3 separate regions of the Homo sapiens genome follow, and regions 1 and 3 are each linked to region 2. Evidence: fine-mapped expression QTL. A gene starts in region 2. Each other region holds a variant in brackets. All regions are shown on one strand. Distances are from middle to middle. Region 1 overlaps COLGALT2 (collagen beta(1-O)galactosyltransferase 2). Region 2 holds the start of COLGALT2 (collagen beta(1-O)galactosyltransferase 2). Region 3 overlaps COLGALT2 (collagen beta(1-O)galactosyltransferase 2).

Region 1 (5,227 bases), 67 kb after region 2:
CTTAGCCTTAGAAACGTCAAATTAGCCAATTCCTGATTCAGGAATTACTATTTTTAATTAATTCTTTTTGTCCTTACAAAACTAACATAAGAACACTATAGAAAAACTTAGAAATTAAAAAAAGTTTAAAAGAAAACCAACAAGACAGATGTTAAATCCCCATCACCGTAACAACATCATAGATAGAAACTTGCACGTTTTTAGTAACTGTGTTATCATCAAGTGGCTATGTTCCAATTTACTTAACCTTTATCTCGGTTTGAAAAACATTTAAATTATTCACAACTTTTTAACTATCGTGACCGTCATGATTAATATAATTTTTCAGCATTTAAGATTATATCCTTAGGATAGCTTTTTAGAAGTGGAATTACTGAGTCAAACAGTACAAATATGCCAGGCGCGGTGGCTCACACCTGTGATCCCAGCACTTTGGGAGGCCAAGGCGGGCGGATTACAAGGTCAGGAGATTGAGACCATCCTGGCTAACATGGTGAAACCTCATCTCTACTAAAAATATAAAAAATTAGCCAGGCGTGGTGTTGGGCGCCTATAGTCCCAGCTACTCGGAAGGCTGAGGCAGGAGAATGGCGTGAACTTGGGAGGCGGAGCTTGCAGTGAGCCGAGGTCGCGCCACTGCGCTCCAGCCTGGGTGACAGAGCGAGACTCCCTCTCAAAAAAGAAAAAAAAAAAAAAAGTACAAATATTTCAATGACCTTCGATGTATGTTGCCAAATTTATTTCCAAAGAGTTCTAATAATGAAAACTACCATGGTAGGTTATTTTTATAAAATTCAAGTTAAAAAAGGTTTGATTTTTTATTATTTCTTTTTTTCATAGTAAAATCTTCAAAATAGTGGTCTGTTTTAGTGAATGCTCATGGCTGGTTATATTTTTTATTCTTTAATTAAAGAATTAGATAAATTCAACTGATTAATGTAATATGTATCAATGTAGGATAAAAATGTGCTAAGCAAAATATGTTGGCCAGGAGCAGTGTCTCATGCCTGTAATTTCAACACTTTGGGAAGCTGAGGTAGGACAATTACTTGAACCCAGGAGTTTGAGACCAACATGAGCAACATGGCGAAACCACATCTCTACAACAAATCAAAAAATTAACCAGTTGTGGTGTCGTGCACACCTATAGTTCCATCTATTCGGGAGGCTGAGCAGGGAGTATTGCTTGAGCCCAAGAAGTTGAGGCTGCAGTGAGCTATGATCACACCACTGCACTGCAGCCTAAGCAACTGAGACCCTGTCTCAAAAAAAGAGGGAGTATGTTCAATGTATTCTCATGGCCAAAGGGCTAAAGTTTGAGTCTCCCCTTTATATTTGGTTTTGTTTTGGATGAGAAATAAGGTCAGTAGTGTGCTGATAAATGTTTAATAACTGGCTCTTTGTGGGAAAAACCCTAGTTGGTAGCATTGCCAATTTTTATGGTTTAAATACTCCCACCATGCAAACAGCTTAAATGTTGTTAAGCTAAGGGAAAGGTTAAGTAAACTGCAGTATAGCCACTTGATGATACAGCTATTAAAAACATGTAAAACTGCCACATGAGGTGTCATTAGAGTGGTGGGGATTAACGTGATTTTTGTTTTTATGGATTCCAAGCTATCAACATGTCAACTGGTTTGCAAACTTTCTGAAAATTTAACAATGTGTGGTCCAGTACACCACTGGATGAAGCATTCCTCTTTTGTTGTAATTATTTCTTCTAGCTGTAAGAGATTTTGAATGCGTGCTATTTTCTGTGTCTCTTTTGGGAAGGTAATATGTTCATATTTCTAACAGCCATTCACTTCCTTGGGAGAAAACATTATATTGGTTTAAATTCATACATTTTCAGTGTTTCACATGGCAGAATCACTTGAGGGTTGTTTTTAATGAGTTGTGCTTTGACATCAGCAACAAGGGTGGGTTATCCTAGTGGCCGCAGCCTACAAATTTGTATTATCTCCTTATTTACTTTCAGGCTTAAAAGCAAATAGGAGAA[A/G]TGTGCTCACTTGTTTTGTACAGTAAAACTAAATTCTGAGCAACTTAGGGACAAGTATTATTTTCCTCCATTTATTTTTGGCTTTCTACCATCCCAGTTAGTCTCTACTAGAGCAGGAATAGAAAGGGCCAGTGACTTCATAAATTCAAAGCAGGACCTGGTTCCCAGAGCCTTTAAACTCATTCAAAACAAAATGTCCTTGATGTTGTCTGGCCAATGAACAGGAATTATTACCAACAAGATTCAATTTATGTGGAAAAAGGAACACATTCATCATCTCTGCCTCTTTGCAGGAGGCACATTTATTCTCCCTCACTCTCCCTGCTTCCTTCCTTCTCACCCCCACCCCAAGGATATTCAGTGATTCATCATCATCATGGATTTTCCAAGCTAATCATTCTGGGAATATTGTTCCTAAGTAATCTAGAACTTTATATTAGACGCAAGTACTTAGGCAGCCCTTTAAAAAACCCGAGTCCCCTTTATCTCTTGGAAGACTGCTCATAAGCTGAAGTATTAGGAAAACCATAGAGGATGTTAAATGATCCTTAAGTTAAAGGCTAATAAAAACATTATAGTAATGATAATACTTCATATAATGAATTGCAGTTCCCAAAATAGGTTCATAGACCTTATCACATGTGATTCATTCTGCAGCTCTATGAGATTGACAGAGCAGCTGTTATCCCATTTTTCAGGAGAAAAAACTCAGGCTCAAAGAGGGTAGGCATGGACTAAGATCAAACGGCTAGAAGGTGATTAAGATGACTCTGAGACCCACATCTTCTGAGTCCTCATTTTTGATCCTCCTCCCTTATCATGGGGTCGGCATTAGGGTTAGCTCAGCTAGGACACTCTTCTAGAACCTGAAGGGAATGTCAGAGAAGTAGGTGAGGCTGTAGCACCTTATGTGTGGATGCTGAATTACAACAGGAAATGTAACCATGAAGTGATGCAACTGATTAATGAACACATAAGAACTTCCAGAGTATGGTGCCCTTCGGAGTGCTGGCTTTGCAAAACTTAACACTCATTCCAGTGAGCCTGCCATCACCTAGAACATTTTCCAAAATGCCTGGCAAAGCTTCCACAAGTATGTTTTGTAAGCATGTTTTGTTGAGATATATCTTCATCTTTTCTGGAAATGATTCAAGCTTTGGAATAAGGAAATTGGTTGTCCTGTGTGCTTGTGCAGAAGGACGTTTCAGAAGCTGAATCCCCAAAAACTATGGAGCAGCTGCAGCTTCACCAGAATATTGACTAAGTAACTGCATTGAAAGAAGACCCTCATTTGTATATCTAAGTAATGCATGTTTAATTACAAATATTAGCCACAGTGTAATGTCATTTTAATAGGAGCCGGTATTTGCTGATACATTCTTGGTGCTGGGCAGTAGTCTCAACACTATTCAGGTTCTACCTTACTTAAATTTTACAGCTAACCCCATGGAGTAGATAGTGCCGTCATCCCTGTTTTAGAGATGAGGAAATAAGCGCAGCAAGGTTGAGTCACTTGACCCATACCTACAGACAATAAGTAGCTGAGGTAGGATTTGAACTCAGGGAGTCTGACACTGGAACCTGTGCCCTTAACTGCTCTGCCACTTCTTAATACTCATGCTTCATATTTAATCATAAGTCAACATAAAATACACTTTTATGAAATTATTAAATCTAGAGATATGCTGAAATAAAAGTTACTTCTTATATCAAGACCCTTTTAGTATTATTTTATATGTAGACAGCATTTCTTGTGCTCACTTGGAAATTCATAGGCCATGATAAGAGGAGTGAAGGTGGCTTTGTTTGGGAGCTTGTATATAGCTGGTAATGACTTGAAAGGAATCAGTCTAGCAAATGACTGAGAAGGATGAAGACTTCAAATCAGAAAACACAACCCACCTATTTGCTCTTTTACAGGGCTTCTATAAGAGGACCCCAGACTACGTTCAGATTCGAGAATGGAAGAGGACAGGCTGCTTCCCCGTCCCCATGGTCCACTCCACCTTCCTAATTGACCTCAGGAAGGAGGCCTCGGACAAGCTGACTTTCTACCCCCCACACCAGGACTACACCTGGACCTTTGATGACATCATTGTCTTTGCCTTCTCCAGCAGGCAAGCAGGTACTGTTTGTCTTTGGTTGTAGTGCCACAATGGAGACACAGCAAAATGACCAGCTCCTTTGTTTTGTGCATTTTATTAAAAAAAAAAACCCTCATATGTCTGGTAGTGAGAGGCAGTAAATTGTCTGCAATAACCATACCAGCACCCTCTATGTTGCTGTCCCTGGGAGCACCAATGACCAAGAGCCAGGGCTGGCCTCTACCCAGGAACCCACTCTATTTTGAGTTGGAGGGACTGGTGGTGATATTGGGAATTATGGGAAGGTGATTGCTTCTCTGTGGTGCTACTGCATTGCAATTGTTTATTATAGAAGTTCATTTATTAATTAGGAAACTGTCACAGAGGCCTAAAACAACACTGGCAAAGACCCCAGACTTTAAAAATGGAAGTTTATTTCTTCTTGAAAAAGTCTGAGCTGCTGTAGTGGCTTTGTTCCACAAAGTGTTCAGAGTCCCAGGCTTCTTGTGTATTGCTTCTCACACTCCACGAGGTACTGCCCTTAATTGTGGAGTCCCAGGTGTCTCACCACCATGGATGCGTTTCAGCCAGCAAGGCAGAAACAACAGGGAGAACTCTCCCTGTCCCTTGAAGTGTGCAATCCAGAAGTTGAATGCAGTACTTCCATGCAAATCCTGTTAGCTAGAGCTTAGTCACAGGACAATACCTCACTGTAAGGGAGGCTCAGAATGTCGTCTTTATTCTCTGCATGCATGCACTGCAATTTTCACACTCTAGAAGAAGGAAAGAACAGATAAAGAGGCACCGAACAGTCTCAGCCTCAGTCCCTGTGGAAGGAGAGGCAAAGCGAGACTGAGGTCTTTTATGAACCACTGGGAAAGCATTTCTAGTGGGGCCTGGAGATTTTTGAGAAAGACAAGTCAACAGGAAGGAAAGTTATTTCTCTCATTTCACCCTACACTTGCTTCAGGAGGACAAAATTCACAAGAGCAGTTCAACAGCAAGACACATGGCATCTAACAGAGCAAAGCTTTGTTAGGATAATTCAGACTTTCCTGACAGAAGTTGGGTCCCATTATTAATGTGCCAGAAATGTGTCACTTAACCACTAGCAAAAATACGTTCATAAACCAAGAAGATGGTG
Region 2 (5,227 bases):
GAAAGTGCTTACTTCTAACTTTATGTAGAATCAATTGGAACAGTCTACTGGCAGTGGAGACAAAGAGATATGTGTGTACAACCCTGACTTTCCATTCAGCCGATTTTCCATGGAAAGAGCATTATAAGCAATGAATATTTTAAAATATAATTGGCTTTTATTTTTAAATTAGTTTTTTTTTTCAAATTAACTGTCTTATAACATCAATCCTATGCGGGGGGGAAACATCCAAATTCACATTACTGATTTCTGAAGAACTTATGAAACAAATCTGTTAGTAAGATGGGGACTTAATTTTTCCCAGGCTTCCCCTCCACTGCCTCCCAACCATATTTACAATGATCTTCTACTGTTGCATACCCTGTTATTACCTTAATATTCTCAGTCACTAAATGAGCACTCAATTAAAAGTTTTAAATAGGTGTTTTGTAGGTTATGTGGCTGGGAAACCCTTGATTTCATCTACAGAGCAGAGCAGGTTGTAGTTATTTTAAGAGAACTCCATGGAGCCGATTTCATTATAATGTCATTAGAGACCATACAGGTTTAGATGCTTCACCTTTCTTTGAAAAAATAGACTCAGATAAGCTGTTGACTTTAGGTAACTGTATTAGTCTGTCCTCACGCTGTGAATAAAGACATAGCTGAGATTGGGTAATTTATAAAGAAAAAGAAGTTTAGTGGACTCACAGTTCCACATAGCTGGGGAGGCCTCACAATCATGGCAGAAGGCAAAGGAGGAGCAAAGACACACCTTACATGGCGGCAGGCAAGGGAGCATGTGCAGGGGAACTGCCCTTTATAAAACCATCAGATCTTGTGAGGCTTATTCACTATCACGAGACTAGCATGGGAAAAACCTGCCCCCATGATTCAATTACGTCCCACGACACGTGGGGATTATGGGAGCTATAATTCGATGTGAGATTTGGGTGAGGACATAGGCAGACCATATCAGTAACAGAAGGAAAATAAGACAGAAATGTGGTTGCCTAGCTTTAAACTCCCTCTGTTTGCAGTAAAGTGAACAAATGATAACTATCAAACCAAGTTTGGCTAAGGAGTGCGGATTTTAGTATTGAAAGATGAGTGGGACATAGTTCAAGAAAGGGAAACAAGAAAGACAGAACAACATGGAGATTGTCTGGACCTTTCTAACAGTCCCATCACTACCTCCCTTGTGGAAATGACCACATCTTCCTCTATCCCTTCACTGTAGCTGGTACATCTGTTACAGTACTTCTAACAGATGTTTAACTCTCAGTCTTCCCTACAAGACTGTGAGCCCCTTGAAAGTGGGAACAATTCCTGAAAATGGATGGAGGGGAAGGAAATGTCTGTAGGCCATTCGATAAAAAAATATGAAGATTAGAGAAGAGATTAGAGCAGAAGACATAGATTTTGAGGATATAACCACAGGAGACCATATGGAGTGGGAAGACTAGCACACTATAGGGAGGCACACAGTGAAGGGGCTTGGCTCAGAGACAAGTAGTATCAGAGGAGATCTAGGATGGGAGATTATGTAATCGAAGTCCAGGAAGGTGAGAACGGAAGAGTTTACTGAATCTGCCAATGCTGAGGCCATCTGTTGGTTTTGCAGAACAGTGGGGAGGGCTGACGCCTTACTGCACTGTGGTGGGAAAGATGGGAGATGAAGAAGTGGAGAATACAAGTATAGATCTCTCTTCCAAGGAGCTTGGTCAAGCAAAGGGATGACTAGAAGAAGACACAGGACTTTTTTTTAAAGCTTTTCTTTCTTTTTTTTTTAACGGATAAGAGAAGACTGACCAAGTATTTAGCTTGAGAGAAAGGAGTTGATAGAGATCAGTTGAAGATTCAGTAGAGAGTGGAATGATAGAGAAAAATCATGGGCTAGAAAGGGAGACCTCTCCCTTTCTAGTCTGTGATCAAAGACCCTGTCGTGAGGAGGCACCTGCAAGTAAGAAAGGTCTTGGTAGGGATGCTAGTTGGAGACAGTGGTGTTGGGGGAGCTGGATGAAGGAGGTGATATACTTCAAAAGACAGTAGGGAAGACTTCTAATAGTTGCTGAGAAGGATTGATAACAACTAATAAAAAGACTATGGGACAGACCTGAGGGTGAGTTGGGATTGGAGATCATGAATGTGCACTGGCACCAAAACACCCTCCATACTTATCTATCAAAGGCTACACAATATATCTTCAAAACTAAATATCCAGCCGAGCATGGTGGCTGATGCCTGTAATCGTAACACTTTGGGAGGCCGAGTTGGGCAGATCACTTGAGCCCAGGAGTTCCAGACCAGCCTGGGCAAAATGGTGAAAACCCGTCTCTACAAAAAAAAAAAAAAAAAAAAAAATTAGCTAGGCGTGGTGATGGACACCTGTGGTCCCAGCTACTCGGGAGGCTGAGGTGGGAGGATTGCTTGAGCCCAGGAGGTCGAGGCTGCAGTGAATTGTGATCGTGCCTCTGCACTCCAGCCCCGGCAACAGAGTGAGGCCCTGTCTCAAAAAAAAAAAAAAAAAAAAAGTAAATCTCCTTTAGCAGTGTATGCCAGCAGTTTCATTTTATGTGCTAATTGTGTTCTTCCTTCACCCCTTCTTTTCTTCCTTATCTCTTCTCTGCTCTCCAACATGCGCGAATTTTCCCTCTTTGTTACTCTATCATATTGGCTTATTACGGAAAAAGAAAACCAGCTAAGTGAATTTATTCTTTCACAGCCCTCCTGTGAGGAGGCTTACTGGGTTCACAGTAGAGTGAGGCTTCAGGACAGTGTCTCCCAAGGGCTTTCTTTTATTTTGCGGGGTCTGATCTGGCTCCAAAATTCTCCAAGTCTTCAAACTTTGTGTTATTAGGTGTCTACTCAGTCAAGAATGAATTTCAGAAGTTGAGTATATAAGAAAATGCGACATGCTGCCTTTGCGGTGGTTAAACAAGTGTTTGTCATAATCGTGAATAGTTGGGGAGACTTTTCATTTTAGAACTCTACTCAGTCAATAGGTGCATTATGAAAACTGGATACATTGCATCACTGTGAAGGGCTTCAGTCTGCGGTTTGCAAAAGCAGAATAAATTTTCTTGGGGTTGTACCGTTATGTACACACACACACACACACACACACACACACACACACACTCACAGGCTCATTGGCAGACAGGGCCACAACTCGCGGCTCTAGGGAAGGCCACAGACCTCAGCTGTACGAGCGGAACCTGGACTAGAGGAACTTTCCTCAGGACTCAGGGCACACAGCCCCTCGGCCACTACTGTCTGCGAGCCCGAGGCGCAGGGGAGCGCCAGCGGCTGCAGGTACGCTGCGCACCCGCACTGGGGCCTGGGCGGTGCAGCGGCGGCGGGAGGGTCCTGGGAACCGCAGCCGCCGAGGCCAGTGTGTGAGCCGGCCGGCCGCGGCAAGCCGCATCCCCCGGCCGCCCCTCGCAGCCCCTTGCTCCCCGGCAGCCGCCGCCGCCCTCAGGCAGCCCAGCCGGGCGCTCGCGCCAGGACTTCCCCGCCGCCCGCCTCGGCCCGGAACATGGCTGCGCGCCCTGCTGCCACCCTCGCCTGGTCGCTACTGCTCCTCTCCTCAGCCCTGCTCCGCGAAGGCTGCCGAGCGCGCTTCGTCGCCGAGCGGGACTCGGAGGACGACGGAGAGGAGCCGGTGGTTTTCCCGGAGTCGCCCCTGCAGAGCCCCACGGTGCTCGTGGCGGTCCTCGCCCGCAACGCGGCGCACACGCTGCCGCACTTCCTCGGCTGCCTGGAGCGGCTGGACTACCCCAAGAGCAGGATGGCCATCTGGTGAGCGCGCACGGGCCCCGGGCCGCCGCGGCGGGACGCGGGGGCGGCCTGCCCAGCGCGGACAGCGCCCGGAGCAGCAGCTGCAGGGCGAGGGAGCCGCTGGAGGGGCGGGGGGGCACGCGGAAAATCTGGCGCACACACCCCCTCGCTGCCCGCGCCGGTGGCTGGCGGATCGGGCGGTCAGGCTGCGGAGGGACGCGCGGGTCAGTGTGCGCAGAGGGTGCTGATGGGGAGAACCGGACCGCTGGAGCTCTGGAGGGTAGCCTGCGAATTGGGGCTTTGTCCCACAAGGGGCATGGGGGACACCCCTCAAGGGGACTTTCAGTTCCCTCGCTTTTAACTCTCGAGGTTTCCTCTTTCCCCACCTCATACTGCTAGCCCTGACGTGAGGGGATAGGGTGCCTGTCGCCGTATTCCCATGTAGATACGACAGATGGAACGTAACTGCGGTTGGCCAGGGGCTCCGCAGTGGCTGGGGCGCCGCAGTGCGCTGCTCTGACTTTCCGGTGCCGGGCTCCTGCTCCAGGCTGGAAATGTGCTCCTAGCTCTCCTAGGGGGACCTGGACCTAGGGGTGGAGATTGGGCGGAGCCCGCGGAGTGTGCCCAACCATGGCACCACCGTGGGCCTGGTCTCCTGCGAGCGCTCCGGGCTGTCCCTGCCGGTGCATCGGGGTTCCACGTCCCGGGGAGAGACGAAGATGCCCTGGGAAAGATAAACAGCCAAGTTTTGTCCCCGGAGGAAAGAAGCTTGGACCTGGTCCCTGTGTCTGCTGCGGGGAGGGCCAGGGGATAAGTGCGGGTGCCTGCCCGCCCCACCTTGTAGAACTTGGTCGTCTCGCACCTTTTATAAACGCGAGGATCCGAGGGCGAGAAGTTAGTTGGTGGCCAGGTTAGCCGCTGAGTGGGTTGTGGAGGACAAGGAGGTGGATGCTGGCCAGGGGAGATGTGCTGTCAGGTAGGTACTCGGACAAGAAGACTCTGGCCCCCTGAGGAAGACAGAGCCCAGGTCACTCTGGAGCAATTTCTGTCTTGTGTTGATAAAGGGAGCTGTTCTCAGGCGAGACACATCCTTAAAGCAGCGGTTGGGCAAAGAGAGGAAGAGGAGTAAAAGCAGCAGCTAGAATTGGCAGCCTCAGAGTACCTGGTGGGAGAGGTGCAAAGGTGCGAAAGCAAACATGTGATATAGTACAGCTCTGTGCTGTACACTGCTTTACTATATACCCTGCCATACGTGACCGCCTGGCGGAGAAGGGCATATTATGTGGAAAGAGAGCACTGGGACAGCCAGGCTTTAAACCAGAAGGAAGGATTTTTTTTTAACCACTTCGGTACCAAAAGAAATTCACACATATCAGTTACCTTAGTTGTTGTGTTTTTTTTAAGAGATATTTTAAAATATGGTTTTGATCTTTATGCATGATTTAGTTTTTTAAAACGTTACAGTATT
Region 3 (5,227 bases), 93 kb after region 2:
AGGTTGGAGAACATACCTTGTGTGATTTCAATCCTTTTAAGTATACTGACACTTAATTTATGACCTATATGGTCTTTATGGTCTAAAAAATGGTATTTCTTAGAGAATGTTCTATGCACACTTGAAAGTGTGTATTTGGCTATTGTTGGGTGGAATGTTCTATAGATGTCTGCTAGGTCTGATTATTTTAAGATATTATTCAAGTCTTCTGTTTCCTTGTCTTCCTCCTGCCTAGTTCTATTATTGCAGGTGGGATATTGATGTCTTCCCCTATTATTGTTGAATTGTCTGTTTCTCCTTTCAATTCTTCCAGTTTCATGGTTCTGAGGTTCTGTTAGGTGCATATGTATTTATAATTGTTATGCCTTCCTGATGGATTGACCTTTTTTTTTTGAGATGGAGTCTTGCCCTGTCACCCAGGCTGCAGTGCAATGGCACGATCTTGGCTCACTGCAAGCTCCAGCTCCCAGATTCACACCATTCTCCTGCCTCAGCCTCCCAAGTAGCTGGGACTACAGGCACCCACCACCATGGCCGGCTAATTTTTTGTATTTTTAGTAGAGATGGGGTTTCACCGTGTTAGCCAGGATGGTCTCGATCTCCAGACCTTCTGATCTGCCCACCTCGGCCTCCCAAAGTCGTGGGATTACAGGCGTGAGCCACCACTCCCGGCCCAGATTAACCTTTTTATCATTAAAAAATGTCCTTCCTTGGCTCTAGCATGAATTTTGTCTGAGATTTATTTTGCCCAATATTAGCATAGCTCTGCCAGCTCTCTTGTCATTGCTGATTATATGGTATATCTTTTTCTATTCTTTTACTTTCAACCTATTTTTGTCTTTTAATCTAAAGGCTGCCTCTTATAGATACCACATGGTTGTATTAATTTTTAAAACTTACTATGCCAAATTCTTCCTTCATTGCAGTGTTTTATTCATTTGCCTTCACTACATTTTTTTCCAGATCCTTAAGGTCAGCCAGAGGTGAGAGACTAGGGACTTCTCAAGTTTTTCCTGGGCGTGTGGACAGCCCTGAATATGCCTGGGGCCTTCTAGATTCTCAGGGATATTTTGGAGCAAATCAAACTCCCTATGGACCTCTTATTCCTTGGTTTTTCCTTTTAAGTTTTTTGGTGGGCTTCTTGTTAGCATCAGCTGATAATGCTTCTCAAACAGCTGTAATGTTAAACAGTTGTTGCTCATGGGTTTTGACAAATGACCTGCAGATAGTGCTGTTCACAGAAAATGAACTCTGAGTCAGGTCAAATCAAGACAAGCTCTGAGAATGTAGCTTTTCAAGGAGCTACTAGACAGGTTGAATAGAGATTATTTTCTGGGGGCAGGTCTTTAAGGGAGTCTCAGTCCATTTTGTCCCTGCCAGTGGCTTCTGGGTTGGTGGGGTTTGCCGCTCTCTTAGTTGTGAGGCTACTGGTTTTCAAGGCTTTTGTAGGGCTGGGGTGAACAGGTTAGGATTAGGGCAGCTGTGAACTTCACAAAGCTCACTGTGTTAACAGAGATTCAGCAGTAGGTCTTGATCAAACACTCCTTGGATTATTGCAGTACTTTAACTAATTTCCATAGGAGTGTACTTATTAAATCTTGTCAAAAAACTGATGATGCTTAGAACTATGTTGGGCACTATGAGGGATACACAAAAATATGATACCCTCTTGTCTTCCCAGACCTCATAATACTAGTGTGACACATTAGCCTGGAGGAACTTCTAAGGAATAAAGGGAAGCCTCTCTGTCTTTGTCTGTGTGGGGGAGGGGTGTTTGCAGAACTAACTCTCTCTTTCTCTGGCCTTTGTGGTGGGGACCTTTGACTTGTTAATCTCCAGACGTGTTTTATGTGATGCAGGGCACTCAACACAAGCCAGCTGAAGGCACTGAATATTGAAATGCTGCCTGGCTATCGAGATCCCTATTCCTCCAGGCCTCTAACAAGGGGTGAAATCGGCTGCTTTCTCAGCCACTACTCAGTCTGGAAAGAGGTAAATAATGCTTTATTCAGATTGCAGTTTTATGATGAGGAGAAAGGAAAGCAGGCTATCGTAGGTGAGTTAGGGCCAGATGTAAAGTGAGCCCGCAACTGTTCTGGAAATGTGCATGAGAGCTGCTCCTGCCTTGTGTCTCCCTCTGACCCAAGACCAGCAACAAAGGGGCAAGGAGGAGTAGCTTTGGTGCCACTTGGGGTGGTGACGGGGGAGACACCCATGTCCTGTGTGCCACACTCTTATTAATTCATTATCATCATTAGCAGGAATGCCTTCTATTATACCTATTATGACATCACTTATTAAGTGATTTTATACAAGAAATCACACAGAAGTCATGTGAGGTGGGTTGGGAAGGACAGACCACCTTTACCGAAGAAGAAATTATTAAGTAGCTTGACCCGGTAAGAAGTGGCAGAGCCAGAAGTGGAACCCCTGTCTTACAGATCAAGACATATCTGGAGCAGATATTGGTGTGTGGGGTTCCTGATAAACAGTCAGTTTCCACAACCAAAAAGAAAGTCCCTGAAGAAAGGCCCCTTGAACACTTTCTCTTTTAATGATCCAGTCTATGCCTGCCTTTGTTTTCTTTAAACTTTAAGTGAAATGTGATAAATAGGTATAAAAAGATATAGATCAAAAGATACAGCTCAGGGAAATTTCACAAACCAAACAACACACCCATGTTAATCAGTACACAGATCCAGAAGCAGGTAACCAGCATCCCACAAGCACCCCCCCACCCCGTACTGCCTTCTGGTCATCAGTCCCCAAGGGCAGTCACCATCCTGACTTCTAAAGGCATTGAATAGCTTTACCTTTGTTTGTACTTTCCCTTATATGAATGGAATCATGCAGTATGTGTACTCTCCTAACATGACATTTAGGAGATTCACCTATAACGTTGCGTTTAATTGTGATCATATATCCTCACTGCTGTGAATATTCCAAAGTTTATTATCTATTCTACTGTTGATGGCCATTTGCTTAGATTCCAGTTATGAATCTGTGCTACTAGACTC[G/A]TGACTTTTTAATACTTATTTATCTAATAAAAATTGGGTTTCAAACTTTTCATAGGGTATCTTCCTACTGATGACTTTTGCAGGTAATTGATCGAGAGCTAGAGAAGACTCTTGTAATTGAAGACGATGTGCGTTTTGAGCATCAGTTTAAGAAGAAGCTGATGAAGCTGATGGATAACATTGACCAGGCTCAGCTGGACTGGGAACTGATGTGAGTGACAAGATGATCTTACGAGAGGGCTCTGAGAGGCACTCAGTCCTTTCCAATGCGCAGAGAGCCCCACCTCCACAGCCAGTAGGAGATACAGCTTAAGCTTCCACTTATCTAGTTTTCTTTCCATAAATGTTCTCAGAAATAAAAATGGGTAGAGGTTAGCCACTGGATTTTGCATCCTTCTACTCTTCAGGGTGGGAAACTGTGGAAGATTGTCTGAGACCTGGAGTCGGCCTGCAGATCAGGGACCTTCAGACAGAACCAAGGTGTGGCACTGAGCACTTACTTAGGAGCACAGCAGAAATCCCACCCTCAATTAACGTGGCACATGGAGTGGGTGTGAAGCTGGAGAAGAGGCCATTTATTCAAGCTCTAAAGTCCTGTGTCATATTTAAGACTCAGCTCCCGGGACAGCAGGTTGCCTCTGCAGCTTCCGAGAAGGTGGGAGGTTAGAGGGTCAGCCAGGGAGCTCCTCTGTTGGGAAATGGGGCTGCACAAACATGAAGAACATGGACAACTAGATTTGGGGAAGGGTCTGAGGCTGATGCAGGAAAACCAGGCTCACCAAGGGAGTGCTGGCTCTGAGCTGACATTTAGTTAATGTTCTTTGTCTACTCTCTGGGAATTGAGTGGCTTCTGCTTTTTTCTTCCCTTCCCTTTCATTTTTCCTTCCCTTCCCTTTCATTTTTCCTCTCCCTCTCTCCCTTCCTCTTTCCTTTTTCTTCTTCCTCCTCTGCCTCCTCCTTTCTCTCTCTCATTTTCTTTTTAAAACAAATGACACTTTCAATTTCTCTCCAATGAAGCAGAAAGTTCCCAAGCATTGTGTTTGCTCCCAGCTGTGTGTCAAAGGCAATTCATCAACTCTGAGCCTGCTTCTTTGGAGCAGCTGCAGCAGAGGAGCTGTCCCTGCTTCTCCCACCCACAGGCGGTATTTAACTGTGGGCCCAGGTGGAATACTTGTTCCCTCAGAAAATGGGCCACTCTGAGCTCAGAAGAAACCTAGCAATGGCTCAACTAATGCGTCACTGTGTAATAAGACACCTATGCCCTGTCAGATTTCAGTCATGTGGTCATGTGGTTTGGTTTGGCATTCTGCACAGTCCCTTGAGATCACTGTTTCTTCCTATATCCTCCAGAAGTCGCTGCACTTCAGCCTTTCTCAATGGATGGCTCCGCAGCCTGTGGTTAAGGCCTCACAGGCCTGGAAGCTACTTGATGTCCACGTGACTTGTATAAAGGCAACTTCACTTAAGCCTCATAATCACAGAAGACTGAGCCCAGAGAATCTAAGGTTTAGAGCTGGCATACGTTCCCGTTCACATGTAGTTCGGTGGGTGCATTTCTCAGGACAAAGTACCGACAGATGCAAGAAGGAAGAACAGTTGTCTTGATAAGGATACAGGAAAAAAATGTTTTCTAAATTTCACAGGTTGATCAAGTCAAAATATCCCCTTAAAATCTATTATATAGTCTTAAAGAACTGTAACAGTTTTAAATTGTACCTGTTATTTTCTAAAACAAAAAAGAAACAAATGTTACTTAAACCTAAAACATGAAAGGTAATAAGCTGTTCATGATTGCCACATTACATCTTTCCAGGAAAAGAAAATAATAAAAGGGAAGAATAGAACAAGTCATTGGAATCATTGAGGGAGTGTTGTTCAATAGAAATATAATGCAAGCCACATATGTCATTTTCAGTTTTCTAGTAATCACATTAAAAAGGTAAAAATAAATTAGACTAAATTAGTTTTAATACATTTTATTTAACAAAAATATCCAAACAGTATCATCATTTTGGTATGTAATTAATATTTTAAAACCATTAATGACATAGTTTACCTTCTTTTTTTTTTTGTACCAACTCTTCAAAATCTGGTATGTATTTTACACTTAGAACACCTCTCAATCCAGAAGCTAAATTTTCAGCTGTTTAAGTAAACTGGGCTGGGCGCAGTGGCTCACGCCTGTAATCCCAGCACTTTGGGAGGCCGAG

The links.
Region 1: its variant is fine-mapped to the expression of COLGALT2 in whole blood (TOPMed, PIP above 0.99).
Region 3: its variant is fine-mapped to the expression of COLGALT2 in cerebellar hemisphere (GTEx, PIP 0.99). The same link has a PIP of 0.9 or more in whole blood.

Annotation. Positions count from the first base shown.
Region 1 is chr1:183,968,166-183,973,392 of GRCh38, reverse strand. COLGALT2 (collagen beta(1-O)galactosyltransferase 2) reads left to right here. Exons shown (of 12, transcript NM_015101.4): 5 at 3,920-4,124. Among named protein-coding and RNA genes, the nearest start is that of COLGALT2, 67 kb to the left of the region's middle. The variant A/G (reference allele first, on the strand shown) is at 2,000.
Region 2 is chr1:184,035,648-184,040,874 of GRCh38, reverse strand. It overlaps COLGALT2 (collagen beta(1-O)galactosyltransferase 2), which reads left to right and starts at 3,147. Exons shown (of 12, transcript NM_015101.4): 1 at 3,147-3,780. The coding sequence starts at 3,518. RefSeq lists a silencer at 3,335-3,424.
Region 3 is chr1:183,942,197-183,947,423 of GRCh38, reverse strand. COLGALT2 (collagen beta(1-O)galactosyltransferase 2) reads left to right here. Exons shown (of 12, transcript NM_015101.4): 9 at 1,860-1,992; 10 at 3,101-3,228. Among named protein-coding and RNA genes, the nearest start is that of COLGALT2, 93 kb to the left of the region's middle. RefSeq lists enhancers at 939-1,781, 1,782-2,624. The variant G/A (reference allele first, on the strand shown) is at 3,018.